Linked DNA regions of Homo sapiens: all the other regions are linked to region 7. The links come from fine-mapping of genetic effects on gene expression. A gene starts in region 7. Each other region holds a variant in brackets. All regions are shown on one strand. Distances are from middle to middle.

Evidence for each region.
Region 1: its variant is fine-mapped to the expression of CDHR3 in whole blood (INTERVAL, PIP 0.99).
Region 2: its variant is fine-mapped to the expression of CDHR3 in tibial nerve (GTEx, PIP above 0.99). The same link has a PIP of 0.9 or more in fibroblasts.
Region 3: its variant is fine-mapped to the expression of CDHR3 in anterior cingulate cortex (GTEx, PIP above 0.99). The same link has a PIP of 0.9 or more in hypothalamus and prefrontal cortex.
Region 4: its variant is fine-mapped to the expression of CDHR3 in tibial nerve (GTEx, PIP above 0.99).
Region 5: its variant is fine-mapped to the expression of CDHR3 in nasal epithelium (TOPMed, PIP above 0.99).
Region 6: its variant is fine-mapped to the expression of CDHR3 in tibial artery (GTEx, PIP above 0.99). The same link has a PIP of 0.9 or more in adrenal gland, aorta, atrial appendage, liver, pancreas and skeletal muscle.

The regions. Positions count from the first base shown.
Region 1 is chr7:105,920,597-105,924,663 of GRCh38, forward strand. No RefSeq gene overlaps it. Among named protein-coding and RNA genes, the nearest start is that of CDHR3, 41 kb to the right of the region's middle. The variant G/A (reference allele first, on the strand shown) is at 2,272.
Region 2 is chr7:105,863,095-105,867,161 of GRCh38, forward strand. All of the region lies in intron 2 of ATXN7L1 (ataxin 7 like 1), which reads right to left. Among named protein-coding and RNA genes, the nearest start is that of ATXN7L1, 11 kb to the right of the region's middle. The variant C/G (reference allele first, on the strand shown) is at 1,768.
Region 3 is chr7:105,902,574-105,906,640 of GRCh38, forward strand. No RefSeq gene overlaps it. Among named protein-coding and RNA genes, the nearest start is that of ATXN7L1, 28 kb to the left of the region's middle. The variant T/G (reference allele first, on the strand shown) is at 2,486.
Region 4 is chr7:105,774,135-105,778,201 of GRCh38, forward strand. All of the region lies in intron 3 of ATXN7L1 (ataxin 7 like 1), which reads right to left. Among named protein-coding and RNA genes, the nearest start is that of ATXN7L1, 100 kb to the right of the region's middle. RefSeq lists enhancers at 1,521-2,104, 1,694-2,893, 2,105-2,688, 2,689-3,272. The variant C/A (reference allele first, on the strand shown) is at 1,980.
Region 5 is chr7:105,993,914-105,997,980 of GRCh38, forward strand. CDHR3 (cadherin related family member 3) reads left to right here. Exons shown (of 19, transcript NM_152750.5): 5 at 838-932; 6 at 2,337-2,441. LOC107986833 (a long non-coding RNA gene) reads left to right here and starts at 2,453. Exons shown (of 2, transcript XR_001745316.2): 1 at 2,453-4,067. The variant G/A (reference allele first, on the strand shown) is at 2,099.
Region 6 is chr7:105,875,605-105,879,671 of GRCh38, forward strand. It overlaps ATXN7L1 (ataxin 7 like 1), which reads right to left and starts at 995. Exons shown (of 12, transcript NM_020725.2): 1 at 774-995; 2 at 208-276. The coding sequence starts at 954. RefSeq lists a silencer at 1,038-1,247. The variant C/T (reference allele first, on the strand shown) is at 1,843.
Region 7 is chr7:105,961,391-105,965,457 of GRCh38, forward strand. It overlaps CDHR3 (cadherin related family member 3), which reads left to right and starts at 1,874. Exons shown (of 19, transcript NM_152750.5): 1 at 1,874-1,974. The coding sequence starts at 1,929. RefSeq lists enhancers at 427-1,378, 1,379-2,330 and a silencer at 1,913-2,207.

The sequences.
Region 1 (4,067 bases), 41 kb before region 7:
GAATAGTAGTGAAAGGCTGTACCTTGGGAGGCTCAGGATTATACTGATGCACCCATCACTCACAGTTACTAGACATGTGGCAGAGACTGAATAAAGGGTTGACCCAGGGACACTCCTTGAATATGTCCCCTTTTTTTGATCAGCATATCCTTCTAACCTCCTAGAAGTTCCAATTTACAAAATGTAATGGTGGGAATGAACAAAGAAGTAAGGCACAATTACTCTATCTGGGTGTTAGGGGTACTTGGCCTCTGTGGTTGACACAGCAAGGCTGAGTTGTGGTAAATTCTTGCACATTCTTGCCCATTGATCCTGCCGCCTTGAGCAGGGCCAGGTAGCCAGTCCTGTGGTCTAGAACATAACCCCCGTGGTTTTGGACGCTCAGGGTGCTGTGTGTGTTGATGTTGAATGAGTAGGCTTGGTTCTTAGTTGAGCTTTCAGAACTCTGGAAATGCTTGAGTTTGCAGTGACTCGTGCACAGTAGAATGGAATGCCTAGTATTCCATGGTGTATATGTGCCACATTTTCTTAATCCAGTCTATCATTGTTGGACATTTGGGTTGGTTCCAAGTCTTTGCTATTGTGAATAGTGCCGCAATAAACATACATGTGCACGTGTCTTTATAGCAGCATGATTTATAATCCTTTGGGTATATAGCCATAAAAAATGATGAGTTCATGTCCTTTATAGGGACATGGATGAAGCTGGAAACCATCATTCTCAGCAAACTATCGCAAGGACAAAAAACCAAACACTGCATGTTCTCACTCATAGGTGGGAATTGAGCAATGAGAACACATGGACACAGGAAGGGGAACATCACACCCCGGGGCCTGTTGTGGGTTGAGGGGAGGGAGGAGGGATAGCATTAGGAGATATACCTAATGTTAAATGACGAGTTAATGGGTGCAGCACACCAACATGGCACATGTATATATATGTAACAAACCTGCACGTTGTGCACATGTACCGTAAAACTTAAAATATAGTAAAAAGAAAAAAAAAAAGAATGGAATGCCTGATTCTGCATCCCTCTAGATGGGATCAACAGGATCAAAACATGACCTTGATGGCCAAGCCAAGTTCTCTTTTTCCCAAAGGGTTTAAATCTGCCCTATTTAATATGGTAGCCGTAGCCATATGTATTTATATTAAATTCAAATTAATCAAAATTTAAAAATTAGTTACTTAGTCACACTAGCTACATTTTACATGCTCAGTAGCCACATAAAGCCAGTGGCTGCTGTATTGAACAGTGCTGATTATGGAATATTTCCATCACTGCAAAAGGTTCTGTTGGACAGCAGTAATCCAGATCTCCTTTGTAGAAGAATTGGCACCTGGGGCTGCCTGATCTTCAAGGGGCACATCACAGAGCATGGTGTTGACCCATCTGGATACCATGTTTGAAGTTGACATGGCCCAGAAATTTGACTTCCACCAGTTAAAAATGTACTTCGACAGTTTTGTATTTAACCTGTAAATCCAGAAGCATGTCAGGGCCTTCTGGATGGAGCACTGTGAAATTAGCATACACTTCAAACCCTCTTCCCTAAAAGATCATGCACTACTGTGCTGTACATGGTAGACCTATCTCATAGTGTAGGCTTCAGCAAATACTCTTTGACAAATAATTGGTTCTGTGCTGATGATAAGCCTAATAGGTGAAAGATGGTCTTTCCCTTAAAAAATTGAGATATATGATACCAGTCTCATAAACTCTAATTCACAAGCCCTGGCATTATGAGAGGCACTTAAAGTATGAATGGTGTTAAGATTATCCTTTAATTTTGCAGTAGGCAAATGACCTCCCAAAGATATTCACTTCCTAATCCCCGGAATTTGGGAATACATTACCTTACATGACAAAGGGGATTTGCAGATGTGAATAAGTGAAGGATTTTGAGATGGGGAGACTATCCTGGATAATCCCAGTGGGACTCATGTAATCACACAAGTTCTTAAAAGTGGAGAACTTTTCCCTGCTGTGGTCACAGAGAAAAACGCAACCAATGTAAGAACGGTCAGAGAGATTCAACATTGTTGGCTTTGAAGATAGAGGAAGAGACCACAAGCCGAAGAATGCAGGCAGGCTCTAGAAGCTGGGAAAGAGAAGGAAACGTATTCTCTGCAGAGCTACCAAAATGCATACATCCCTGTCTACACCTTGATTTTAACCTGGTGAGACCTGTATTGGGCTTCTGACCTATAGAACTCTAAGATAATAACTATATGTTGTTGAACATGCTAAGTTTGTGGGAATTGTAACA[G/A]TAGCAATGGGAAATGAATACACCTTTTATACAGTGGAGGATGACTAAATAATTTATTTTGAAAATACAACTGTCACAAGGATGAAATATTCATGATCACAAATTGGTGCATTCTTAACTGTGGATAATTATGTATGAAGCCAAATTGTAATAAAACTGTTATTTGCCAAACATAGAAACCTTGCTTCGTGACTAGGCTGAGCCCAGAGTGTTATTCTCTTCTTCTGCCTGTTATGTATCTGGGCAATTGTAGGGCCTTTGCAGGTGAATCCAGTAGAGAACATGCTAAGAATGAGCAGCAGTCATGCATGACTGTATCATTGAAAGCCTTCTAGCCATTTTACAGCTTCACCTCCGTGGTTTTATTTTTTCAGAGGGGACTGAAGGAGATGAATGGATAATAAACTATGGCTAAAAACTTGGTCTGGATGAACTCTTTGATGCGGGGCATCAGGGGGGTGGGGGTGATGGGTGCGTACCATGGGATCAGTAGCCCTGCACCAGCTCAGAGGTATAATTGTGAGGCTGGTGGAAATGCTCATCGGGGAGAAGGAAATCAGGATCACAGCTTCTGAGGACTGAACATGCTCTCAAATATAGAATCATTAATGGCCTTGGCATTCATGGTGTTAGCCTTGACTCAAATGAGAATGCCTCGACCCTTCCCAGGTTCTCCGAGGCCCCTAAGTAGACTGTCACTGGGACTTGGGGACATGGAGCTCAGTTAATGGCCTCTTATTTTTACTATGCCATAGCATCCACCTGATTTCTGGAAGGCATTGCTTCACTTTCATAGACAGAAGATGTAACGACTGCCACGAAGATCCCTGGAGCTCTGCCTGGCGATTCTCACTCCCACTGGGTAGCTGACAAATTTTCCCTGAGAAGACATGGTTTCCTCCAGCAGCAGCAGAAGGAGTCATGGGTTTTTCTGTTTCATGGCTCAAACTGTTGTGACTCGGAATTATACTAGGACAGGGCCCTGACTTATTCTTCTGGGCTGGGCTGAGTAAGGCCTGGCTGAGTGTAGCTGGGTACACAGGTAGGGGTGGAATCAAAGCTGGAGGTACCCATAATGCTGGTTAGGAGGATAACTAGCTAGAATAAGGTTGGCAAGAACTGGGTGAGCAGGGATAGGAATTAAGACTGAGGACTGGGCTGAGGGTAGGTCAGGGGTTCTGGCAGCAACACAGCTGGAATGAATGGAGAAGCACACAAACAAAACCAAGCTAAGAAGAGCCTAGATCAAGCTTGTCCAACCCATGGCCCACAGGCTCCATGTGGCCCAGGATGGCTTTGAATGTGGCCCAGCACAAATTTGTAAACTTTCTTAAAACATTATGAGATTTTTTGGTGATTTTTTTAGCTCATAACTATTGTTATCATCTCCAGAAGGTGTTCAATTTACCTTGTCTAGATCCATTAGAGGAATCACTGTCTATGACAGCTGTAGCTTTATGAAATGTATTATATTTCTTAAATAGTAAAACTTGAAAGTTGAAATTATATATTGATCCATGGGCTGCAGAATGAATGTTGTGTTAGCAAGTATGAAAACATCATTAATCTCCTTACACATCTCCATCAGAGCTCTTACGTAACCAGTGCATTGTCAATGAACAGTAATATTTTGAAAGGAATCTTTTTTTCTGAGTAGGTCTCAACAGTGGACTTAAAATATTCAGTAAAACCATGCTGTAAAAAGGTGTGCTGTCATCTAGGCTTTGTTATTCCATTTATAGAGCACAAAGCAGATTTAGCCTAATTCTGAAGATCCCTAGGATTTTTTAAATAGT
Region 2 (4,067 bases), 98 kb before region 7:
CAATGCCATGAGGGAAACTGAACAGCGGCCTAGAAGATGTTCAAAAGGAGGAAAAAGAGAGAAATCATCACTCTAGATAGACGCCCCTGGAGTTGCTTGGCAACCATCTTTGCTAACACCTTCTCCCAAAAAGGAACACAGTTTGCATTAGCTCCTGTGATTTCCCTGAGGCCAGGACTCTGGCCACAGAGGCCCCAAAGCTGGGGCCTTGGAATGAGAGAGCGTTTCCCTGATGGGGAGACCCAGGGCCCTATCAGGAGGCCACTGGCTTACACAGTCAAGGGGGAATGAAAGGTAGTTCAGCCTTGCCATTTTGCTTAAAGAACAAGCTCTCTTGGCCAAGGATGGTGAGAGGATGAGTGAAGTCAGGTGCCCAGGTGCAACACTTAAGGGGCACTCACTCCGCACTTGCAGAAGCCCACGTGAGCCCCTCCTTAAACAGGTGTCCTGGGTGCCTGCTTGCTTCCCCTTAGTCCTAACCCTGCTCCTAGGATGACAGACATCAGGACACAGTGCTTAGAGCACAGTCTCTGGAATCAGCCTGCCTTGGGGTTCAGGGCAGCTCTACTATTCCCCAGCTATGTTACCTTGGGTAAATCACTTGACCTCTCTGAGCCTCAGCTTCCCAATCTCTGAAATAGGGTTGATAACAGGATTTGCCTCACAGGGTGGTCATGAGGATTAAATGCGAACATGCACATTTAGCCCTGTGCCTGGCACCTAGTTAATGCCCAATAAAAGACAGCTAGGATTGTTACTTAAAAACAAAACAAAACAAACAAAAAAACACATAAGTTGGGCTGTGTTTAGCCCAAAAGGTACCAGAAAAATAAATTTAAAACACAAACAAAAAACTCCAAAAGGAAATACATAAGCAGCTCCCTAGAACCCCTGAACCTGGATCTATAGAATCAGAATCTCTGTGGGTGGTCCTGGCATATTTGCTTTTAAAAAGCTTCCCAAGGAATTTTCAAGGTAGGCAGGGTTGAGAACCACTTCTCTCAACCAATAAACAGTAGTTCTCAAAGTTCAGGAAACAACAGAGCCACCTGAGGAGCCTGTTTAAAATGCACGTTCCTGGTCAGGTGTGGTGGCTCACACCTGTAATCCCAGAACTTTGAGAGGCCGAGGTGGGAGGATCACCTGGGCTCAGGAGTTTGAGACCAGCCTGGGGAATATAGCAAGACCTTGTCTCTACTAAAAGTCAAAAAAAATTAGGCAGGCATGGCAGCACACGCCTGTAGTCCTAGCTACCTAGGAGTCTGAGGTAGAAGGATCGCTTGAGCCCTGGAGATCGACGCTGCAGTGAGCTTGATCATGCCACTGCACTCCAGCCTGGGTGGCAGAGAGAGGCCCTGTCTCAAAAAAAAAAAAAAAAAAAAAAAAAAGGACATTCCTGGTTCCTGTGCTTCACTCCCGGTTGTTTCGTTTTAGTATGACCAGCCTGGGGCCGGGGGCACGAAGTACCCTACAGGACAACACAGCAGGGTCTCCAGAATGAACACACTTTGCAAAACATTGAAACAGATTCATTCGTTTTTTTTTTTTCTTTTTTTTGAGACGGAGTGTCACTCTGTCCCCCAGGCTGGAGTGCAGTGGTGCAATCTCGGCTCACTGCAACCTCCGCCTCCCGAATTCAAGCAATTCTTCTGCCTCAGCCTCCCAAGCAGCTAGGACTACAAGCACATGCCACCATACCTGGCTAATTTTTGTATTTTTTTTAGTAGAGATGGGGTTTCACCACATTGGCCAGGCTGGTCTCGAACT[C/G]CTGACCTCATGATCCACCCGCCTGGGCCTCCCAAAGTGCTGGGATTACAGGCATGAGCCACAGTGCCCAGCCCCAGATTCACTCTTGAAACTAACAGTACAGGGACACCAGTCCAATCCCTTTGTCTTTATTCGGGGCATCCTTAAAGAACTGGAGACATACAAGTTGACAAAAGATGCCTGGTGAGCCCCGGGCATCCCCCGGAGCAGTAAGAACGCAGTCTGTCCCCTGGAAGTGGCAGCTCTTAAGACAAAGGCGAAGACCCAAGTGCCCGGTAAAAACAACGATCATCACAACAAAGGCTTCCATTACTGAGTACCTACTTTATACCAGATAGCATCTCATTTATTTCCACAACAATTCTGATAGGTACTATTATTCCTACTCTGGAAAAGAAAAGTAGAAATTGAGGCTTAATTTAATACACAGCCAATAAATGGTCAAGATTTAAATAATGCTCCATTAAACTCCCAAGCCTGCAATGCCAATGAACCTTTTTGTGTGTGGTAAAATACACATAACATAAAATTTACCATTTTAACTTTTTTTTTTTTTTTGAGACAGAGTCTCGCTGTGTTGCCCAGGCTGGGGTGCAGTGGCGCGATCTCAGCTCACTGCAACCTCCGCCTCCCGGGTTCAAGTGATTCTCCTGCCTCAGCCTCCTGAGCAGCTGGGACTACAGGCACGTGCCACCATACCCAGCTAATTTTTTGTATTTTGAGTAGAGATGGGGTTTCACCGTGTTAGCCAGGATGGTATCGATCTCCTGACCTCGTGATCTGCCCACCTTGGCCTCCCAAAGTGCTGGGATTACAGGCGTGAGCCACTGCACCCGGGCCATTTTCACCATTTTTTATGTGTACGGTTAGTTCTGTGACATTAAGTATATTCACAATGTTGTACAACCATCACCACAGTCCATCTCCAGAACTTTTGCATCTTCCCCAACTGAAACTCTGTATCATGGCAACACTAACTCTCCGTTTCCCCTCCCCCAGCCCCTGAATACCCACCATTCTACTCGCTGTCTGTATGAATCTGACTACTCTAGGAACTTCATTATACATGGAATCACAGAGTATTTGTCCTTTTGTGACTCATATACTTTTTGAGAACTGGACTATCACCTTGGTCTGATATAACCAAACTGGGACCATGTCTCCAGCATCTTCCATACCCCTGGAATGCTGAACTCACCTGTGGTTAATATCATCGGACTGGGTGTCCTGTGTCCCCACCCCACCCCAGGACTCTGTGGCCTGTCAATGCCTTGAGGTAAGGTCACGTAACTCACACTCCCCCTACAGTTAAGGGTATCCTTACACCATTAATGTTCACAGATTTACAATTAGCATCACAGAATCAGGTACACCGGTAAGTGCTTCTGTGTTCAAAGAGCCTGTCATCGACTCACTTTTATCTTCCCCATTATGGTGACCTGGTGCCACTTCGTCCTGCCCTGGAGAGTATTTATTTGGTTTCCATTTCTTCTGTAAGCACTTGATCCCTTAAAATTGGCAAGCAGAATTGTGTTGAGAAACCACAGGTACAAGGATAAAGTGTCTCCATAAAAACATTGCTTTCCCCACAGCAGAATTCCAGCTTCACTTATAGACGACTAGGGCAGCCAGGTCTAGCCCCTGAATATTAAGGATGCTCCGCTGTAGCCTCAGCCCACTTGCAAGAAGGGATTTCCTGAGGTTTCATCATTAGTTCAAGCGCCTCAGGGTCCAAATCCAGGTCCATTTGGCAGTCTGAGCTCTACCACAGGAGAGAGTAAGAGAATGCCAGCCAAACGGCATCAGCTGGGAGCACGTAATCAGCAGAACACTGGACCGGGAGATTTAGGAGACAGTCACACACAGAAGTCAGTCCTTGCCATTCCTACAATATTCTGAAAAAGTAGAACCCACTGGCTAAAGCTCTCCCTCTCCATTACGGCTATGTTTGATTATTGCAATCACTCAGTGACCACTGTCTCCAGATGTGAATAGTGGGCCACCTCAGTGTGTGGGGTCCTTAGAGAAGAGGGATTTGACCAGGACAAGGTCTCACTGCATTGAGTACTACCATCTTATGCCTACTTCTGAAATATGTCATGAATGAAACAAAATGTCATAAACGAAACGTTAACCTGAAGGATATAAATGCAACCAACCCGGAAAACCATACAGAAACAAATCTGCCTAACTTTTCTAAATCAATTCTGCAGCAGAGACGGCAGGCCCCTGGGAACCGCCGGCTGAAAGCATCAACATGGCCTCACAGTCTTAACTGATGCTGCAGACCACCTGGCACA
Region 3 (4,067 bases), 59 kb before region 7:
TCCAAACTGGCCAAGCTGCAAGGTTTCCAAAAGCAAAGCTTAAGGCTGGACGCAGTGGCTCCCACCTGTAATCCCAGCACTTTGAGAGGCTGAAGTGGGAGGGGTTTGAGACCAGCCTGGGCAATGTAGCGAGACCCCATCTCTACAAAAAAAATGCAAAAAACAAAACAAAACAAAAACCCAAAACAAGCAGGCACAGTGGCTCACACCTGTAATGGCAGCACTTTGGGAGTCTGAGGCAGGTGGATCACTTGAAGTCAGGAGTTTAAGACCAGCCTGACCAACATGGTGAAACCTGTCTCTACTAAAAATACAAAAATTAGCCAGGCATGGTGGTGTGCACCTGTAATCCCGGCTACTTGGGAGGCTGAGGCACGAGAGTCACTTGAACCTGGGTGGTGGAGGTTGCAGTGAGCTGAGATCATGCCACTGCACTCCAGCCTGGGCAATAGAGCAAGACTCTGTCTAAAAAAAACCCAAAAAACAAACCAAAACCAAAACAAAAACAGAGCTTAAAAAGCAAGACTTGCAGAACATTAGGACTAGGAGGTAGCTGTGGCCAGGGCTCTGTGTAATGCAAAGATTATGTCTATAGGACCTCTGCAGGCCTGGGTTTTACTCCTAGCTGTGTCCTTACTAGTTATATCATCTTGGGCAACTTATGTAAACCCCTGAGCCTCAGTTTCTTCCTTTGTAAAATGGGAATAACAATTTCTGCCATTCAGTACTGTTGCCTAGATGAGTGATAATTTGTGTCAAATACCTGGCACATACTAGGGACTCAATAAATTTTAAGTACAGTAATGTCACTTAACAATGGAGATATGTTCTGAGAAATGTGTCATTAGGTGATTCCATCATTGAGCAAACATCATAGAGTGTACCTACACGAACCTAGATGCCTACTACCCACCTAGGATACAAATCTGTACAGCATATTACTGTACTGAATACTGTAGCAACTGTAACACAGTGTTAAATATTGATGTATCTAAACATGTAAACATAGAAATGTTACAGTAAAAATATGGTATTATAATCTTATGGGACCACTGTTGTCTTTGTGGCCTATCACTGATTGAAATGTTATGTGGCGCATAATTATAATTTTAAAAAATCACTCAGACCTAATGTATGCATTTAATGACTCCACTCTAAGGAAAGCCCAGATGCACTTAAATATACTTCTGTTTATACTGCTTTCATTGGAAATGAAATGCCATGTCAACTATGATGCTTTCAGTTGTAAGTAGCAAAACTGCCAACTCAAACTAGCTTAAAAAATAAAGTGAATTTATTGGTTCATGTAACTGGAAAGTCTCATGAAAATGTCAGCTTCAGGAGAAGCTTGACCCAGCAGCTTCATGATGTATGGAAATACCTGGGTTTTTTGTTTCTGCTCTGCTACTGTGGTATCAGCTTTATTCCAAGTCTGGCTTCCTTTGTTGTTGCAAAATGCTTGTCAGAAGAAGCCTGGGTCCATCTGTTAGGATTAAGTTTACTCTGTATGCTGTAGTAGTGGCTATGACAAGATAGAAGTGTATTTCTCCTCCATATAAAAGAAATCCAGAGATAGGCAGTCCAGGGATGGTATGTGGCTCCACTATGTCATGGACCCAGACATTTAACTTGATGCTCCACGTCCTAAGGTATGGCTCCTTTTCTCAAGTTCACCTCAAGGTCCAAAATGACTGCTAGAGTTCCAGCCATTACATCTGCATTCTAGGCAGGAGGAAGGGGCAGAAGAAAGGCTTGCCTCTTCTCTTTTAAGGAGACTCATTGGAAGTGCCACACAATCCTTTGCTTACAGCTTATTGGCTGGCACATAGGGTAGTTGCCAGGGAGACTAGGAAATAAAGTCTTTTGTTCCCCCTCCCATCCTCAGTTCCTTTTGCACTGTGCTAAACAATTCTAGGACTTTTAACAGAACTCTTCATAAAAGTCTTGAATTTTATTGTATTTATTTATTTTTGAGATGGAGTCTTACTCTGTTACCCAGGCTAGGGTGCAATGGTGCTATCTTAGCCCATTGCAACCTCCACCTCCCACATTCAAGTGACTGTCCTGCCTCAGCCTCCTGAGTAGCTGGGACTCCAGGCGCGCACCACCACACCTGGCTAATTTTTCTTTTTTTTTTCGTAGAGACAGGTTTCACCATGTTGGCCATGGCTGGTCTCAAACTCCTGACCTCAGGTGATCTGCCTGTCTCGGCCTCCCAAAGTGCTGGAATTACCAGTGTGAGCTACCATGCCTGGCCAAAAATCTTGGGTTTTAGATCCCTTCTTTATTTTTTTGGATCTTTTCTGAATCTTCTCCAGTCTTTCCTGATTCACAAGGGGCACAGTCATAAGCCAGGAAATCCCTAAACCTTTATATACTTTAGTTTCCCCATCTATAAAAAGATAAAAGATAATTGTAGCTACCCTTTTTCCTCCAGAGATTAAATAAGATGCATGCATGCTTGATGCAGTGAACATTTAATGAA[T/G]GTTAAGTAATAAATGTAATACTTTGTGATTCACGGGTCCTGTCTCCTATTTGTGTTTTTATCTATCATGCTTGTTTCTTTACCTGAAACCTCCAAATCTCTTCTTGCTCAACCGCAGCTTCTGCTTCTGTAATTTGTTTTTCTCCCTTTAGAAATGCTTCTTAATAAACGCCTTTGAGTCTATTTCTGACTTCATCTCGAATTTGCCAAGGTAGTTTTTTCAGTGTCTGAAAATATGACAATAAGAGAAAATGATTCAGGAGGGCAAAGAGCAGAAAAGCAGCTATAAAGAGTGGGCAGAGGGGAAGGGGAGCGTTGGCCTCTCCCTGGGAGCTCCAGGCTCCATGTGCACACACAGGCTCATCCCCGCTTCTGTCAAGCTCTTGTTCCCAGGCTGAGTTACTTAGAAAAGGAAGAAGAATGTTTCCTATTTGTTCATGTGAATTCACTTAAGAAACACATCCTCAGTGATTAGGCGTTAGAGCTAATTTGTCTACATGCAGCTTAAAGTTAAGCTTGGGAATTTATTTTATTTGAAATTCAAAGGATGAAGCCCTCTTTGTCTTAAGGGCTGAGAAACGCAGCTCAGCTGCGTCTAAGATGGTTTGTACTCACTCTCTTCCTCCCTTCTTGCTTCGGCAAGGATGGAAGGGCTGGGAGGATTTGCATTCAGTTTCTCATGCAAAGAGCTCCTCACGGAATTCCTGCCCTTTGCATATGCTGGACAAGACCAAGATTTTCCAGGTCGCTGCTTGCAGTTGTATTCATAACTGTGGGGGGAGATAATAGCTAACATCAATTGACGGTCACTAGAAGCATTTTGCATGTATAATAACAGTAACAGCCAACACATAAAACGGTGCCTACTATGTGCCAGGCATAGTTTAAATTATTTTGTATACCTCAACCAATTTTATTCTTTCATATTCCTCTGAAGTAGTAATTACCATTACCTACATTTTACAGAAAGGTTAAATGTGGGCTCAGAAAGGTTAAATCACTTGCTGAGGGTTATATTCAGCTAGTGTCAGAGCCTGGATTCAAACTGATCATATGGCTCTGTGCTCTTTTTCTTTCTTTTTTTTTTTTTTTGTTTTGAGACAGAGTCTCGCTCTGTGCTCTTAACTGGTACATTCTACCATCTTCCTAGGAGGGGGTTTTAGTATTAATATTCTTATAAAAAGGAGACTGAGGCAGGGAGAGAGGAAGGAATCCTGGATTCCAGCGTACGCAGGAGACTCCAGAGCCCGGGTCTTCTTTGCTACCTCCTCCAGGGACATGCGGAGACATCTCCACATCCAGCACTTCACATAGGAAGTACCCTGAGGACCACGTGGGATGACATAACCCATCTGGAGTAACTAGTGGCATGGTGCAGGGTGCAGAGCTGTGCTTGAGGTGCTCCCTAAACCCTATCAGTCCTGATACTGCTTCTGGGGCCTGGAGGGGAGTAAGGGAGGCCAGTGTTTGGGGGACAGAAGGCGGCAGCCCTGTGATAAACAAAATCATGTTTCTGGCACCAGGAGCAGAATTCATGTGTGCTTTTACTGCTTCCTGTGCTCTTCCTCATTTTACCCCAGGG
Region 4 (4,067 bases), 190 kb before region 7:
CCCTAGGGACCCATGGGTTTGTTGTAAGAATATGACAAAGGCAGCTCAGCCAAGAAAGTGGGAGGAAAATTTTCAAAGGGCCACCATCTAGCCCCTGCCTTCTTAAACGCACCGGGAAACTTGATTCATGTTTTTGGAGCTAGTGTCACTATCAGGATGATGCCCAGAGCTGACAAATGCAGGTCACAGGATTAGGGTGTCAGTCAGAGCCAGCAACCCTTTTTTTTTTTTTTTTGAGACAGAGTCTCCCTCTGTCACTCAGGCTGGAGTGCAGTGGCACGATCTTGGCTCACTGAAACCTCCACCTCCCAGGTTCAAGCGATTCTACTGCCTCAGCCTCCCTAGTAGCTGAGATAACAGATGTGTGCTACCACACCTGGCTAATTTTTTGTATTTTTAGTAGAGACGGGGTTTTGCCATGTTGGCCAGGCTGGTCTCCAACTCCTGACCTCAAGTAATCCACCTGCCTCAGCCTCCCAAAATGCTAAGATTACAGTGTGAACCACCGCGCCCGGCCCCGCAGCCTTCTCATTAATAAGAAGAGCACTACCATATACTCATTAATAATGAGTATTATTAATGCGCTTTGGTTAAGAGGGTTGCCTCATTTAAGAAGGTGCTTGTTTAAGAAGATTACATATGGGGTGGAGGCAGCCACTTATAAAGATGAGCAGAAAACCACAGCCACAATGTAAACTAAGCCATTGTTATCTTAGGAAAATGCACCCCTAGAGAAGGCTTCGGAATTTGAGAAAATAATTCAGGGGGAGAAAAGCAAAGTATCTATGACGCTAATAAACAAACAAATAACAGAAACCAAATCTTAAGACATCTGTAGTTCCAGCATGGTAAAACAAAGACAATGGTTGCTTTCTCTGGAAAAAAAAAAGATTATTTTTTCCAGGTAAAGTGGGATTCATCATAGTGAAATGGTTTACTGACTCTTTCATCCTTTATGCCCCCCAATTTATGTTTTGCCCTAGACCTATCTATTTCCTATGAGTCTCCTATGCAGCATTCCCAAATTTGCACCCAGTTTTCAGAAGCGCCTGGCCCTGCAAAGGAGCAAGGGAAAGGTCCTACCCAAACAATCAACGGTATTCCCCGATTCTAGGATGCCATTAATTGTGAGATGTAACATTAGTTTAACAGCACCTTTTTCTGGGGAGGGGGGAACCCAGAAAGAAAGCCTGGCAAAGTAGCTCTACACATCATGGGAAGAAGCACTGCGGGTTTAGAAAAGATATAGCTTGGAAGTATCTTTAGAGATTTGTAGCATCTGGGGGCAAGCCTGCACACAGGTTTCTAGCATGTGACACTCCAGGAAGGAGTCAGTAACTCTCCGTGATCCCAGATGAAGACATAAGAATCGGCTCCTTGAGAATACTCCGAGGGCCTCCCTAAAGAAAATTGATGCAGAATGCTGCAGCTTACATGGGATTGGGTTCTAGTGTCAGGGTGGGAGGCGAAAATCCTGTAGGACAAAAACTCCTCTTGAAAGAGTACAGTACACGTAGTATGTGGGACAGTGGGCCCTTCCCATGGCCAGTTTCTCCTCCAGAGTTGGGAAACATCTTTGTTTCTTTGCTCAGACACCAGACGAAAGGGTGAGCTAGTGTCTAGGCCCACGTTCTTAGGAAAAACATGCAGTTTTGTTGTTCTTGTTGCCCACTGCATGTGGCTGAATTTGGATGAGGGCGATGTGACTCCAATGTGAAATAGATGCATTTTTGTTTTTGACTCCAAGACCTCTTGGCGCTTTAATGTGCTAATAGCTGCTATGAGGCTCTGGGAGGGGGAGTCTGGCACAGTTTCCCAAGGGTATGCATCTACCCAAACCCTTGTTCTTCGTATGGGCTCACTGTTCCAGAGAAAGCACTGTTTGGGAGATGCTTCTCTGCTTATGGCTCAGGATAGGGAGAATTCCGAGATGACCTTTTGAATCAGCGCTGCTAACATTCTTTACTCAGATTTAAATA[C/A]AGGAATGTTTGTTACCCGAATTCTCCTCGGTGGATACAGCTCTGAGGAATGGAATGGAGCAGCCTGTATGGCAAGGACACACCAGTGATGAGTCAGAAGCCAGGGGTCACGTTACAGCGAGAGCCCTCCAGCAATCAGCTGTGGTCAGGGATCAAAGCCATGGCCTCCCCACTGCTCACAGAGGGATGCCTTTCCAACTGCGTCTCAACAGAGTTGGTCATTCTCTTTCAAGCAGCCATGTCTTCCAAATGATTGTACTTGCTTACATGTGGAATTTGGCTTATTCATAATTGGTGAGCCAATTTCCCTTCCTTGCTGGCTTCCTTCCTTCTTTCTTCCAAGATTCTTTTTTTTTTAAGAAAAACAAACAAACAAACAACCCCCCCCCCAAAACAAACAAACAAACAAAAAACAGTATATTGGGCATCAACTTTTGAGATCCAGCACTCCTTGTGTGGACTCAGGGAATTGAATGGTGAGCCTGACAGGGGTCCTTGTTCCTTGAGAGTGTGAGAGGGGGGAGGGGTGGATAAGTACATAAGAATTTGCACCAGCCACCATATATGCTAATATTGGTGAAGCAGAAGGTGCCAACAGCACTTGAATTTGGGATTGGAGGAGTGCTTCCTTCTGCCTGTTTATCCACCTGTTTATCCCAGACACTTTTTTTTTTGAGACATAATCCTGCTCTGTCACCTAGGCTGGAATGCAGTGGCACAATCTTGGCTCACTGTAATCTCTGCCTGCCAGGTTCAAGCGATTCTCGTGCCTCAGCCTCCTGAGTAGCTGGGATTATAGGCACGTGCCACCATGCCTGGATAACTTTTGTATTTTTAGTAGAGCTGGGGTTTTACCATGTTGGCCAGGCTGGTCTGGAACTCTTGACCTCAGGTGATCTACCCACCTTGGCCTATCCCAGACACTTCTGAGTGTCTACTAGAAGCCAGGAAAAGTGCTCCCTGGTGGGACTCAGCGATGCCCAAGGAACAGTCCTAGCCTTCAGGAACTCACTGTCTAGTGTTCACAGTGACTCTTCTGCACAGTAATCAGTGCTATAGGTCACAGAGATGCAGAGGGCAAAGGAGCCAGCTGACGATTGAGTTGGGTGGCAGCTAAGCCCAGCATACATGCCAATAAAACACTGAGGGTACTGCCAGCCTAAAAATGGTGCCTGTTGGTGAAGCAAAAATGAAGTCATCTGTCCTTGGAAAAAAATCTCAAGACACAAATAAAATCACCTATTGTCAATTGGCTATTGTCAAGGCCAACAACCCTCAGGTTGCTAACTTAGCGACCTCTTCTCTTTAGTGTCTTACTCAACCTCTTGGCATTTGACATGATCTATGAAACGCTTTCTTCTCTTGGCTTCCGTGTAGTCATTCTCTGCTGCTTTTTCTGCCAAGTCACTGGCCATTCTCCTTCAACCTAACTCTAAATAAATGTTGACTCTTCCCTTTCCAATCTAATCCAATCCATTCTGTCAGCAAATTCTGTCAGCTACATTTCCAAAATAGATCTCGAGTTTATCCTTTTCTCTCCATCTCCACGGCTACCACGATGATCTGTTACCGCTAGCTATGCATTAGCTCCTTCCGGGTCTCCTGGGCTCCACTGCAGCCAGAGTGAGCTTCAGAAAACAGAAACCAGATTATGCCTTTCCCTCACTCAATACCCCCCAGTGTCTTAGCACCACACGTAGAGTAAAACCCAACCTTCAGACTCTGTTCTACATGACTCTGACATTCTGGTCCTTGTCTACTACTCTGAAGCCCTCAAATGTGCCTTGTTTGTTTTTACTCTTCTGTGTTCTCTGCTGGGACACTCTTGTGACAGCTTTTCACATGGCTTGATCATGTATTTGTTTATGTTATTTAACCTACCAGAACATAAGCCTCAAGAAGCCAGGCCCTTATTTGTCTTGTTCACTAATGCATCTGCAGCATTAGAACAGTGCCTGGCATATAGCAGGTGCTCAATAAATATTTTTCAAATAAACAAATGAATTGAAACCATGTGACTCTGGAGAATGTAATCCAAGACATTCAGCCTTCAAGAAATAGGCTTTGATGAGATAATAAGTAGAAGAT
Region 5 (4,067 bases), 33 kb after region 7:
TCAAGAGAGCTGGGCTGGAAGCCTATGATGACAAAGACTCTCAACTACCCAAAGATGTAGGAAGGACTTTCCTTATGCCACGTGCCAGGGATTAGATTTCAAAACAGCTCTTCTGAATCCCTAAACTGGCTTCCAACCTGGACTGTAAGCCCTGTTATGTTTCATTCTCAGCTCACCCTTGTCCCTTGTTCCTTCAGGCATTTCAATAACTGATGCTCATGCATTTTGCGCCCTGCTATATTGTAAGTTGTTTTTAAGGGTAGTGACCAGATCCTACTCACTTTGGTATAGTCCTATTACCTAGTGGGTAGTAGCTGTATTAAATAGGTAATAGGTATAGTCCTATTACCTAGTGGGTAGTAGCTGTATTAAATAGGTATAGTAGCTGTATTAAATAGGTAATAGGTATAGTCCTATTACCTAGTGGGTAGTAGCTGTATTAAATACACTGTATTTAAATACAGTGTTGGTTAAAGCCAAGGCATAGAATCAAAGCCAGAAGTTGTCCAGGAGTGAGAACACAGTGATAGGGATAAGAAGATTGGACTCAGAAGCAGAGCCTGCCTTGACAGGGGCCTTTTATATGCTTTCTGTAGTTAGAACAAGATCCACTCACCAGCTTTTCAGGGTGTGGTCAACCAGGGCTCAGACCAACAGAGCCAGAAGTTTCTGTATTCAAGAGCGATTAAATTGGATAACTGCTCTTTGAACCGCATCCTGATGCATCGAGAACGTTCCATGGGCTAAGAACATAAAATAGGAAATGAGCACACACATCTTCTGGGGAAGGGTGGGCAGGTGGGCTGATTTCATCAATTTTTTTCCCTTGTTTTTTAGTATTTCCTGATTTCTCCCCCAAAGAGCTTCAGAATGTCTGCTAATGGCACCCTCTTCTCCACAACAGAATTGGACTTTGAAGCAGGACACAGAAGGTAGTCTTGCTATTGACCTTGCATGAAGTACTGTTTATCTGAGGGTCAAGGAAAACATGAGGGATAGGTCACAGTGCAACCTGAGGGCAGCTGGGGGGAGCCCCTTGAGCAGTCTACAGCGTCATTGTAAGTTCAGATGGTAGTGAACCCCAGAGAGGGATGGGGAATAAGGCAATTGTCTGGGAGGCCTCTTTTGGTCTCCAGAGAACAAGAATGACAGTATGGGAGAGGGTGCCCAAGTACAAGAGTGTCATGAGCAGTGCAAGGTCAGACATAACCAGGTCCATGCACATTTGTGTCTTTCCATAAGGTCAGGTTTTCACTGATGCTACTTCAATCCTAAAAGCCATGAGCTACATGGAATTCCCAAGGAGGCAACTCTCCTTAGACCTCTTGCTAACTCAGTAGTCAGAGCACATAGGCTCAAGCCACTCCACAGGTCAGTCAGTATTGTAAACCATACATAGTATACTTCATCAGCACATAAATGTTATAAATTAAACATTCCACATCAAACAAAGTAACATTTAACATCATGAGAAAAGAGGTTAATAAACCAGACCAAGGACGGTGATGTGGACACGGAGAGTGTCTTGGCCACATCCAGATGGTCATCAATGTCTTGCAAGGAAGAGTCTTTGATTTGGGCAGATGCTGGGTGCTGATTACAAGTGACAGCAAGACAGGGTCTGTCAAGATGGCCTTGTCGAGCCGGTGAAGTCCTGCTCGTTTTATGGCCCTTGAGTCCACTGGCGAAGACTGGTAGTAAAGGATTATGCCCTTATCTGGTTGAGTGTTGTCTTTATTGATTAGGTGACCATCTGGACCCTGTTGGCTTGATGCCTTTTGAAATGGAAGATGGCATTTTTTTTCTAAGATGTAGTCATTAATGTCAAGGGTGATCTATACAAGATTTCTCAGACCCCATCTTGTTTGGGAAAGGCAGCCATCCAAGCAAAGGGGCTGATGAGGGGAAGTGGATGACAACACATTGGCCTTGGGGTGAAGCAGGTGAGGCTCCTGGCTCTGCGTCGGGTGTGGGAACAAGAGCTAGCCATGTGAGCCATGGGGGCCTCACTCCCTCCAGTGGGAGTGATATGCACTTTCCAGAGATCTTGTGAAAAACACCGGGATAGATGTGCAGCATGGCGCTTGAGCAGATGCTG[G/A]CCTGGTGGGACAATGGTGGTGAATAGCCCCTGCAGAATGAGAAGCAGCCAGCGGGTTTGGAGACGGGGGGAGAAAGGTCACCCTGCAGGCCCTGAGACTGTGGGGGCATTACGGAGAGGCTCACCACCAAAGGGGCAGGGTCTGCTCTCACTCCTCCCACCCCATGATTTTCCCCATCCTATTTTGAAGTAGTGCCAGCAAAGCTTGATTCTCTCACGTGGAATGTTTCCCTGGCAGTTTCCATCTCATCGTGGAGGTGAGGGACAGTGGAGGCCTCAAAGCCTCCACAGAGCTCCAGGTGAACATCGTGAACCTCAACGACGAAGTCCCTCGCTTTACCAGGTAGGCCTGAGGGCATGCAGGACTCCCTGGGCCGCAGGTGCGTCCTTCTTAGGCGGCCTCGTCTCCTCCGGCACATTTAATACAAGGCAGAGGGATGCCCTTTGCTGTGGCCTGCAGGAAAGATTAGAGGCACGTGCTCTTCAGAGTCTTTATCTGGGCCTCTGGACTGCTGTTTTCCACCTTTGCTGCCTCTGCCTCCTGTACCCACACATTCACATGCACCATGGGATTTTGGATATGGTGGGGAGAAGGGGTGGACACATGCCCCGGGGTGTGGCCTGCACTGTGCACATGCAGAGGGTGCTTTTAAAATAAAGTGCCGCGCTTTAGTAACAGCAGAGTCCCAGAGCATGCATCATCACTCACGACTCCCTAACGCCCGCTCCTAGTATGTTATCCTCACACCGAGGAGAGGGCTATTTTCACGGTGCCTGCCTGTTACTGGCTGCTCTAAAGTTTCTTCCTGCCATGGTGGATCCAGAAAAGTGATCCGGCTGTGTCTGGCAGCTCCTCTGTCCAGCAGAGGTGGGAAGGGTAAATGCATCGGGTGGAGGGTAGTTTGTGGAAATGTGCCTGGCACTATCCCAGGCACAAAATGAAGATCTGAGCCTATTGTAGATGGGGATTTAGGAGGAAAAGATGGGATTCTGAGCTAGTAGATGGCACTGCAAACAGCCTGGCATACTGCTTACAGAGCCTCTGCCTGCCCCAGTCCCTGAGATGGGCATAGAAGCCAGCCACAAGGAAAGGCAAAATCACCTTTAACAGCATGAACGGTTATGAATAGATTCAGCACAGGATACTCCACCAATAAAAGACCATTAGGCCTCAGAGCTGGGTAGAGGACTTGCAAAACTACTCCAAGATTGCGAGGTATTTAAGGCAACCTCACTCCCAGACTAACCTGGTGCCACTTGGCAAACACCACAATTGCACAACTTCTGGATGTTAACATAGTCTACAGTCCAGTTGCAGGTGTCAAAGAATGCGTCTGCTCCAGCCCTGCAGCCTGGGCTGCAGTTCCTTTTTCAATCCTTGACCCTCAATTTATCTGCTGCTATTAAATGGCTATGTAATGCTTTCCATCAGCACCTGATGCTGGGTTAGGTTCAGAAGGAGAGCTCAGTGCCTTTGGGCTGACAGGTGGCTCCTGGAGCAAAGTCTAGGCAGCTTATTAACAGTTATGACATCCCAGCCCGGACTCAGGCTCAGGTATGGGCCCACACAGCTCTGCAGATTCTTCAAGAACCCCCAGAGGAAGGTGATGGCTGCAGGGCTGGAGCAGATGCATTCTTTGACACCTTCCCCACAAGTCCCATCTGGGAGGAGGGGAGGAAGGTTAATGGGGTTTCAAAGGGGAAAATAATAAGTCCTCCCCAGGGGCAGAGCTTGTAAACCATCTGGTTTGGATCACATCTTCCAAAATACAGAAACTGACTTTTAGCAGAGAGAGAGAGAGAACATGACCCTCGCTGGCGTGGGATGCACCCAGAGGTCAGCCTGGAACTCTCTGGTTCTCATTTTAGGTTTGAAAGAGGAACATATTGGGCTCCATCCCCAAGCAGATAGCATGATCTGTGTGACGGTCTTTTTTTTTTTAAGTCAGTCGACTTTATTTCAAACAGC
Region 6 (4,067 bases), 86 kb before region 7:
TTCAACAGTCTCACCCCCCTTTACCCCCCCCCCAGTTGTATTTATACTTTGAAAGAAGTTAACATGAAGCAGTAGTCACCTGGGCGTGCTCAATTTTTGACAAGCCTTAGTCACTCTGTACCCAGCAGAACAATTCACATTATATTCGAAATCCTGTGAAGATTCTGCCACACATGCTAACACTAAAATGCCAGTAGCTCCACTTACCTTCTTTATTAAGCCTCATAACCTCCCTGCTTTTTCCACCCTCTTTTCCAGCCTCTTCTAAATCTACATCTGCAGATGAAAAAGAAAAGGAAAACAGAAAATAAGGAAAAAAGGGGGGAAAAAAGCCAAAGTCAAGGGGGGAGGGAGAGTGTTTATTTGCAAACAGATCGATATAAATACTGTATATGAAATTCTTTCAAAAATTGACAATGCAACATTTTCTCCCAAGTCTGGGTTTCCATCTACCTGGCCCAGATAGGTACCCAAAAAACTATGCAAGCAGCAACAAAGTAGCCTTTTAAACGGACAACACCGTGGGGCTGCGAGCCCACCCCGCGGGCTGCCACGGGGAGCCGGGCACAGACAGACAGACAGCCCTGGCAGCCGGGCCTCTCCCTGTGCATTGATGATCTGTCTCTGTGTGTATTTATTTAGAGAGAGAGGGAGAAGCATGGAGGACACCGGGGGCCACTCTCTCTCTCACACACACACTTTTTCCCAGTGGCTCTAGGTGAATGGAAAGGTTACAGGATAATAAAAGGAGGAGGAGGTGGTGGGGTTCTTACTGTCGGAGCAGTGTAATTTGGCGGCGTCGATCCAGGAGGACCAGGGTTTGCCCAGAAACGCCTCCGGACTGGGCACTTTGCGATCCAGTGTCGCCATTGCTCTTCCTTCTTGTTGCTTTTTCCCTGTTCCTTCGGCAGCAGCAGCCGAGAGACACGGGATTCGAGAACGCTCCGACGTCATCTTCGGAACGTTCCGACATTGAGTGTTCTGAAAGGGGGAGGGAGGGAGGAAGGGCGGGATGGGAGGAGGGCGGCGGAGGAGGAGGGGAGAGGGAGCGGAGGAGGGGCGGGCGCTCGGGCTCCCGGAGCCGGCTCGGTGGGGCTCGCGCGCCCGCGGCCGCCAGGGGCAGCAGAGAGGCACCTGCAGTCCGCGCCCGCCCGCCCGCCGGGGCCGCCCGCCTGCCGGGGAGGGGCAGCGCGGACGGGCGAGCGCCGCGTGCGGGAGAGCGAAGGCTGCAGCGCGCCCGGCAGCCGGGATGCAGCGGCGCCGCCCAAGCCTGGGGCGCAGGGGTCGGGGCACACGGGGATAGGCCCGACGCGGGGCCGAAGGAAGGGTGGTCTTTCCCGCAGAGTTGCCGCTGGAGGACCGAAAGTTTTGCAGGCAGCCCTTGCTTCCAGCTTGTCGCTCTCTCCCCGCGTCCCTGTCGCCCAACGCGAGGCGCCCCCGCTGGGGTCCCGACGGCTTGGTGGGGAGGAGCCGTGAGGGGTTGCGCCCCCCACCCCCACCCGAGCCAGGGAAGGGACCCTGGTGACCTCGCCTCCCAGCCCTCACCCCCGTCACCCCTTTCTTCTCTTTCCTGGAGGACTTTGGACCATGGAGATTCTGCAGTTGTTGCTCTAGGAGCTGAAACCAGTGGGTAGATGTCGTTCTGAAACGCAGGTGAGTTTGGAGCGCTACGAGCTACCTTCCCATCTCAGGCTGCGGGGCGTGCAAAACTCAAAAGTTAGGGCCCCCGGACCCCCGGGTTCCCCGCGCGGTGCGTATCTCCGGCTCTCAGAGAACCACTGCATGGACTTTGCTCCAGGGTCAGCAGAGCGGGAGGGCGAATTTACGGCTCTTGGAAGACGA[C/T]GCTAACGGGCCTAGCCCCTGAGCCGTTTCCAGCGCTCCCTGCCGTGAGACGAGGGTGGCCCGGGTTTGCGCAGGCAACCTTTGGCCAGGAATCTGATTCCTGGGAGAATTCACTTCAGGCTTAACTGCTCTAGCCAGCTAGAAAGGGAGCGCTAGATTTCCTCTGGATTTTGGACGTTGGGTGCTTTAGTTGAGATTTTCACCCTTTAAAGAAGGCTTTAAAAAGTCTTCTGTTACTTCTTTTTAACAAATCCTTTTGTTTACTAGAATTATCTAAACTATATGGACACCGCCCTCACCCCACAAGCGACATATTTTTTTTTCTCTTTCGCCAGCACCCTTTTAGCTCTCACCACTGCTGTTTCCCAAGTTGTCACAGCTGAAGCGCACTGATTGGAAGTTGCTTTGTACTGACTGAGTTCTGCCCTGGCTGAACCATCTAATAATTTCCCTGAGCTTGGCACCCTGTATCGCTAAGCCAGTGTTAGGATGGGCGATGAAGGAGGAGCTGCGGATTTGCCTTTAGTTGTGATGTTTGTGTGAGTCGGCTTGTTTGTGTCAGACTCAGATAAACTGCATTTGCCTTTGCTCTCTTTCGAAGGGCTCCTACATAGCTAAGGTGTCGCTGGGTGAAGAATTCCCATTGTAAGAATTGGTGGTGTTAACAAATATGTATTACTTGTTGACCTCTTGTTATATGCTAGACCCTGGGCTTGACATTTCCTTCCTTCCTTCCTTCCTTCCATCTGTCCATCTTAAGTCAACCAATATTGCCTGTCATGGAACAGCTGTGCCCTCCTGTCAGGAGGGAAAGATGAGTGAGACCCATCCTCACCCTCACAGAGATGCAGTCTGGTGGTCTCTGGAAGAAGGAAGTTGTGAAACTTACCGATTCCTTGGGAAAACAGGCAGGTACACAGGGACTGGCCTGTGCAGTGGGTGGGGTGGTCTCTCAGCTGTGCCAGTTCATAGAGGAACCGAAATCTAGTTAGGAGTGAACAGAAACTGCGTAACAGAAGATGGGCTCTGCTCTGCATCTTGGAAATTGCCAAAGATTTGTAATGGTAAGGTGAAGACTGGTCTTGCGGAGGGAGGGGGAATAATGGTATTAGCAGAGGCTTCAAGCTGAGTATAAACATGGTGTGTTTGGGTGTTGAGCATGGTTTGCCTGGGATGGAGAATTGTTACTGGGGGCTTGGGGGTGATGCATTTTGATACCCAGGCCTGGATCAAATTATGGAAGGCACCAAACGGCAGCCTAAAGAGTCTGGATTTTGTTTGACAATGGGGAGCTACTGAAGGGCTTTCTGTACCATAAAGATAAGTTAAAAGTGTGAGTTAGAAAGATTGGAGTACGGAGCCTGGTTAGAAAAGTAGTGCTGCAATATTCATGGTGTGAAGAGATGAAAGCCTGAACTTTGGTGGTGCTATGCAGGTAGAGAAGAGGAGACAGGTGTGAGACTGTGAAGAGAGCACCTGATCAGAGGGTGTGCTGTTGGGCTAGATTTAGAGGTGGGGAGAGAGAATGCGAGAGCTCTGAGGCATGAGTAATTAGATGCTGGAACACTTTCCCTTTCCCTTCTGCTTCCCTATTTTCCCTCTATTTATTATCTATTTTGATGTTTATTCCTGTGTTGTTGTGCATGCAAGGAAGGTGTAGGCAGCAGCTAATGTGGCCCCAAAGGTCTGTACCTCCTGGTGTTCATGCCCTTGTGTAATCCTCTTTTCTTTAGTGTGGGCTAGACTTAGTCACTTGCTGATAACAAAGAGAATATAGCAAAAGTGGTGGGATGTCATTTCTGAGGTTAGGGTACAAAACTGCTGTCACTTCTGTTGCTCTCACTCTCTCTTGCATGCCCTGTCTTGCTCTAAGGGAAGCCCACTTCCATGTTGTAAGCTGCCTTATGGAGAGGACTGTGTGGCAGGTAACTGAGGGAGGCCTCTGGTCATCAGCCAGTGGGGAACTGAGGCCCTCAATACAACAGCCAGTGAGGAGCTTAATCCTGCTAGTAGCCATGTGAGTGGGCCACTTGCTGGGAGTCAGTGACTTGAGCTTCCAGAATGCTGTCTCCTCTTCTGGGAGCTACTGTAAACCACTCAAAAAAATCAAAGGTGGCTTATCATCAGAAGTCAGGACACCTCAGTTATAGTGAAGCAAATCAGTGGTTCCATATTTTAACATGAGCTTACTTTCCCAGCAGAGTCTGTCAAGTGGAGGTTACTAC
Region 7 (4,067 bases):
CGGATTGCTTGAGTCCAGGAGATTGAGGCTGTAATGAGCTATGATCGCGCTGCTACACTCTAGCCTGGGAGACAGAGTGACAGTGAGATCCTGTCTCCAAAAAAAAAAAAAAAAAAAAAAAAAGTATTTTTAAAACACATAGTATGGGCCAGTTTCTTTCACTTCTTTCTCTTGTGTATCGCTTGCGATGATACTGTGTAGCAGGTATTATTTTCCCTGATTTACAGAAGTGAGTGGAACTGAGATTCTGAAAGGTTAGGTAAATTGCCAAAGGTGACACAGCAACACTCCCTTTTGTTTTGTTGTTGTTGTTACTATCTATGTGCTTCGAACAGAGACCTATCGACTAGCTTTCCTAATCTTACTACCTTTCCTTCATGCTTTACACAAGAAAAGTCAACTTTTCTTAAGGGAAAGGTTCTTGTTATTTTGAGCAGGAAAGTAAATGACCAAAATTGTACTTTGGGGAAATTAACCTAAGTTTCTGTAGGATGTGCTGCGGGCCAGAGCCCAGGCCAGAGGCAAGGACCTTAAGCCAGGGCAGTAGCAACAAGCATGGGAAGGGGCCCGGCAGCAGGCCCTGGAGGCTGGAAAGGGCTTGTCAAATGTTTGGATGTGGTGGAAGGGAAGGGCAGCCTTGCCACCCTAGGTTTGGGACGCAGGGGACACAGGGGACACTGGCAGGTGGCGCAGCCTGGGTCAAACCCCTCACTCTCTGAGCCCTTCTTGCTTGGCACCCTTGCAAATAAATGCCTTCCTTTCTATTGCTGCAAAAACCTCGGTGTGGATATCCGGTTTTACTGCACAGGGTGAGTGGACCCAGTTTGGTTCCATAACACTGTCTCCCTCTATCCCTCGTTGGTGACCTCCGTGTAGCAGGTGCTAAAAGCTGGTTCACCTGTGGGGCATGTGTAGTTTTCAGAGCGCCTGTGGGGTCTCGTCCAGACTGGGAGGCTCTGACTCAACTCCCCACCTTCTTCACTGCATTCCTGCCCCCAGCCTTGGGCTGCTGGCCTCTCCTCCCCTAGCTGGCAGAGGAATGGGAGAGGTGGTCCAAGCCCAGCTGCCTTCCACTGTGCCCACTACTTCTCTTACTGCACCATGTCAAGGGGACAGGCCACTGCTCGGCCGTTCTCTCTCTGCTCTGCTGTTGCTCCTTCTCAGTGGAGACTAGACCCCAGCCCGCGTTTGTTCACATGCCACATCTTGTGCCCTGGCACAGGGCTGTGTGGAACAGAAAGGCATCGTGAAGGGCAAGACCTGCATCACTCCCCAGTGGGCAGAAGCCTCACCACTCCAGTAACCTTCCTTCACAGCCTTCTTCGAGGGCTGGAGGGGCGGTGGTGGGGGGTGGAGTCAGAGGGCAGTCTTCCACCTCAAGTCAGCCTCGAGGAGGGGTCTGCTCCCAGCTCTCAGATCTTGTCTTTAGAACGAGTGCCAGTTAATTCCCAAGTCTGAATCCTACTCATTGATTCAGGACAGCAGAAAAACTCCCACTTCCCACCCCTGTTTCTGGAAATGACCACAAGCCTGGCTACAGGGCGACCGAGACCATCATGGGTGGACTACGCACGTCCAGCTCTTAGTGTGGTCTCCGTGTCTCGGTTTTCTCTTTTGACTTCTCTTTTGGAGCTCTTGGTTGAGACACTTGGTGAGTGTGGACTTTTAAGGTAAACTCTGAGCTGACCAGGACTGGCTGGTTGGTCTCTTGGGTGCTATGCAGTCACAGAAGCAGGTAATCAAAGAACAAACAGTCCTGTGGTGTTTGGAGTCTCCCTTGGCTACCGCCAAAGCCTCTGTTTGATTTCTTGCATGGCAACAAAACCAGGAGGGGAAGCTGAGTGGCTTCTGGAATAAACTTTGGGTGTGAGACGGGATTCAGGCTGTGGCTAATGTGCTGGAAGCACGCACAGTTGTGACCATCAAGTATGCAGGAAGCAATCATTCTCCTGGCTCTCCTGGGTGCCATGTCAGGTAGGAACTCAATTTTGCTTTGGAACCTTGCTTGCCTACTTGGTCTGCATAATACCATTGAATGACAATGTCCCCCAGAAAGGAAATTGCCCCTGGGAGGCTTGTTCAATTGAGGGCTTAGCTGCAGTAATGAATGAGGTGATGCCGCTCCAGGGAGCCCTGGGGGACCAGGTAGGAGCCCTGGAAAAGAGAGATGCTTAAAGAGCCTAATCTAATCTATGTTGGTGTAGACTTCACTTTCCCTCTTGGGTTAACTGGCCTGCATTTGGTAGTCCTCCTGAGATTTAAGGTTGGGAAAATAGTGTTCATAGCAGAGCTTTGTGAGTATGTCAAGTGAGTCTTTGTGGAGATTCTGGCCCTTTTCTGGAGGCTCGTAGGGCAACTTGAGGTTGACAAGTGATCCTTTGAGGAAAGTGAGTTACTGAGGGGGTGTCTTCCTCTTGAGCAAAGAAAACACCTTCTGATAGAAGGGTCAAAGACTCAAGCTAGTGATCATTTTACTCTCTCTTCCTCATTCAAGGGCATCAAGAATCTTAGATGATCTTTTTAATGTCAGCTTGGATTATTGAAATTGAGATTTTAAAATTAAATTTTATTTCTGAATAGGTAGTATATGCATAATATATTGAATTTATGTTAAATTTGCAAATTAATTTAGGGATAATTTACATCTTTGACAAGTTATGTAGTAAAATACTTAGAAGAGTGTCTGAGTACATAGTAAATGCTTAGTAAATGTTAGTGAGTATTATTTATGATCTTGAGTCTTCCTAATCCAAGAACAGGGTTCTAGATACTTGTTTGAGTCTTCATTTGTTTTTCTTAGGAGTATTTTGAGGTTTCCTTCATATAGATTTGGTACATTCTTATTATGGTTATTTCTAGTTCTTTTACTTTTTCTTTTTTTACATTTGTAAATGGAATCTCTTCTTCCCTACATCTTTCAACTGATTATTGTATGATGTATGGAAATCTGTTAACAAATTATCTTATTATTTGGCATGGTTTTTCAGGTGATTCTCATGAATTTTCCACGTTTGAAAAAATGAACATTTATATTCTTCTTCTCCTATGTCTATAGCTCCTATTTTTTTCTTATCTAACTGCCAGGCCTGGACATTCTGACCATTATTAAATAATGACAAGAGTGTAAATTCCTGTCTTGTTTCCCATTAAGCATGATGTTAACTTTTGGTGTGAGAGAGAAATGTTTTATATGTTAAGGAGGTGGCTTTTATTCTTATTAATATAAGAATATTACAGTATTTATTTCTAAATAAAAATATAATAAAACTAAATGTAAGAATATTCAAGTACTTATTTCTAAATAAAAATGGATTTTTAAATCAAACGCTTTTTCAAGATCTATGAAAATGACCATTTAATTTTCCTCTTCGATCTGCTAATAAGATAAATAAATAACTGGGTTTCCTAATATTGAGCCCTCTTCTATCTTGGGCTTTTCAACTCAGCAGAGGGCAGGATGACCTGTGAATGTGAAGTGGGCCATGAGCAGTTCAGACTGTCACTTGAAGTAAACATTTCAGATTTCCCCCAGAAATATGGGCTTTTAGGGCCACAATCATTTGAGTCGAGGTGACTTTTATTGTCACTGGGGAAAGAGTGAGGTTAGGAAGAACCCAATTTCTTATACTGAACACTATCATTTGGAATTTTATCAGAAGTGTGAAAGGGATAGATCACAAAGGTTTGCAAGAAATACTTGAGATTTCTTATTTAAAACACACAATAGAATCCCTTAGGTCAAATCTTGTTTTTGGAAGGGCTACTGTGACACAAACTGTTTCTTTTGTGAGTCTGAGAACCTGGTCATTACCCTCACACTCCAACACCTGGGCTACAGAGGCTTCTAGCGGGGCAGCCACATCAGCACCCCTTCAGGCTGTTGGAAGCAGGCATCACTATAATAATCTCAAATAAAGTAACATACAGTAAAAAATTAGCAGAGCATGAAGACGGGTGCCTATAATCCTAGCTACTCAGGAGGCTGAGGCAGGAGAATCGCTTGAACCCAGGAGGCGGAGGTTGCAGTGAGCTGAGATTGCGCCATTGCACTCCAGCCTGGGCGACAG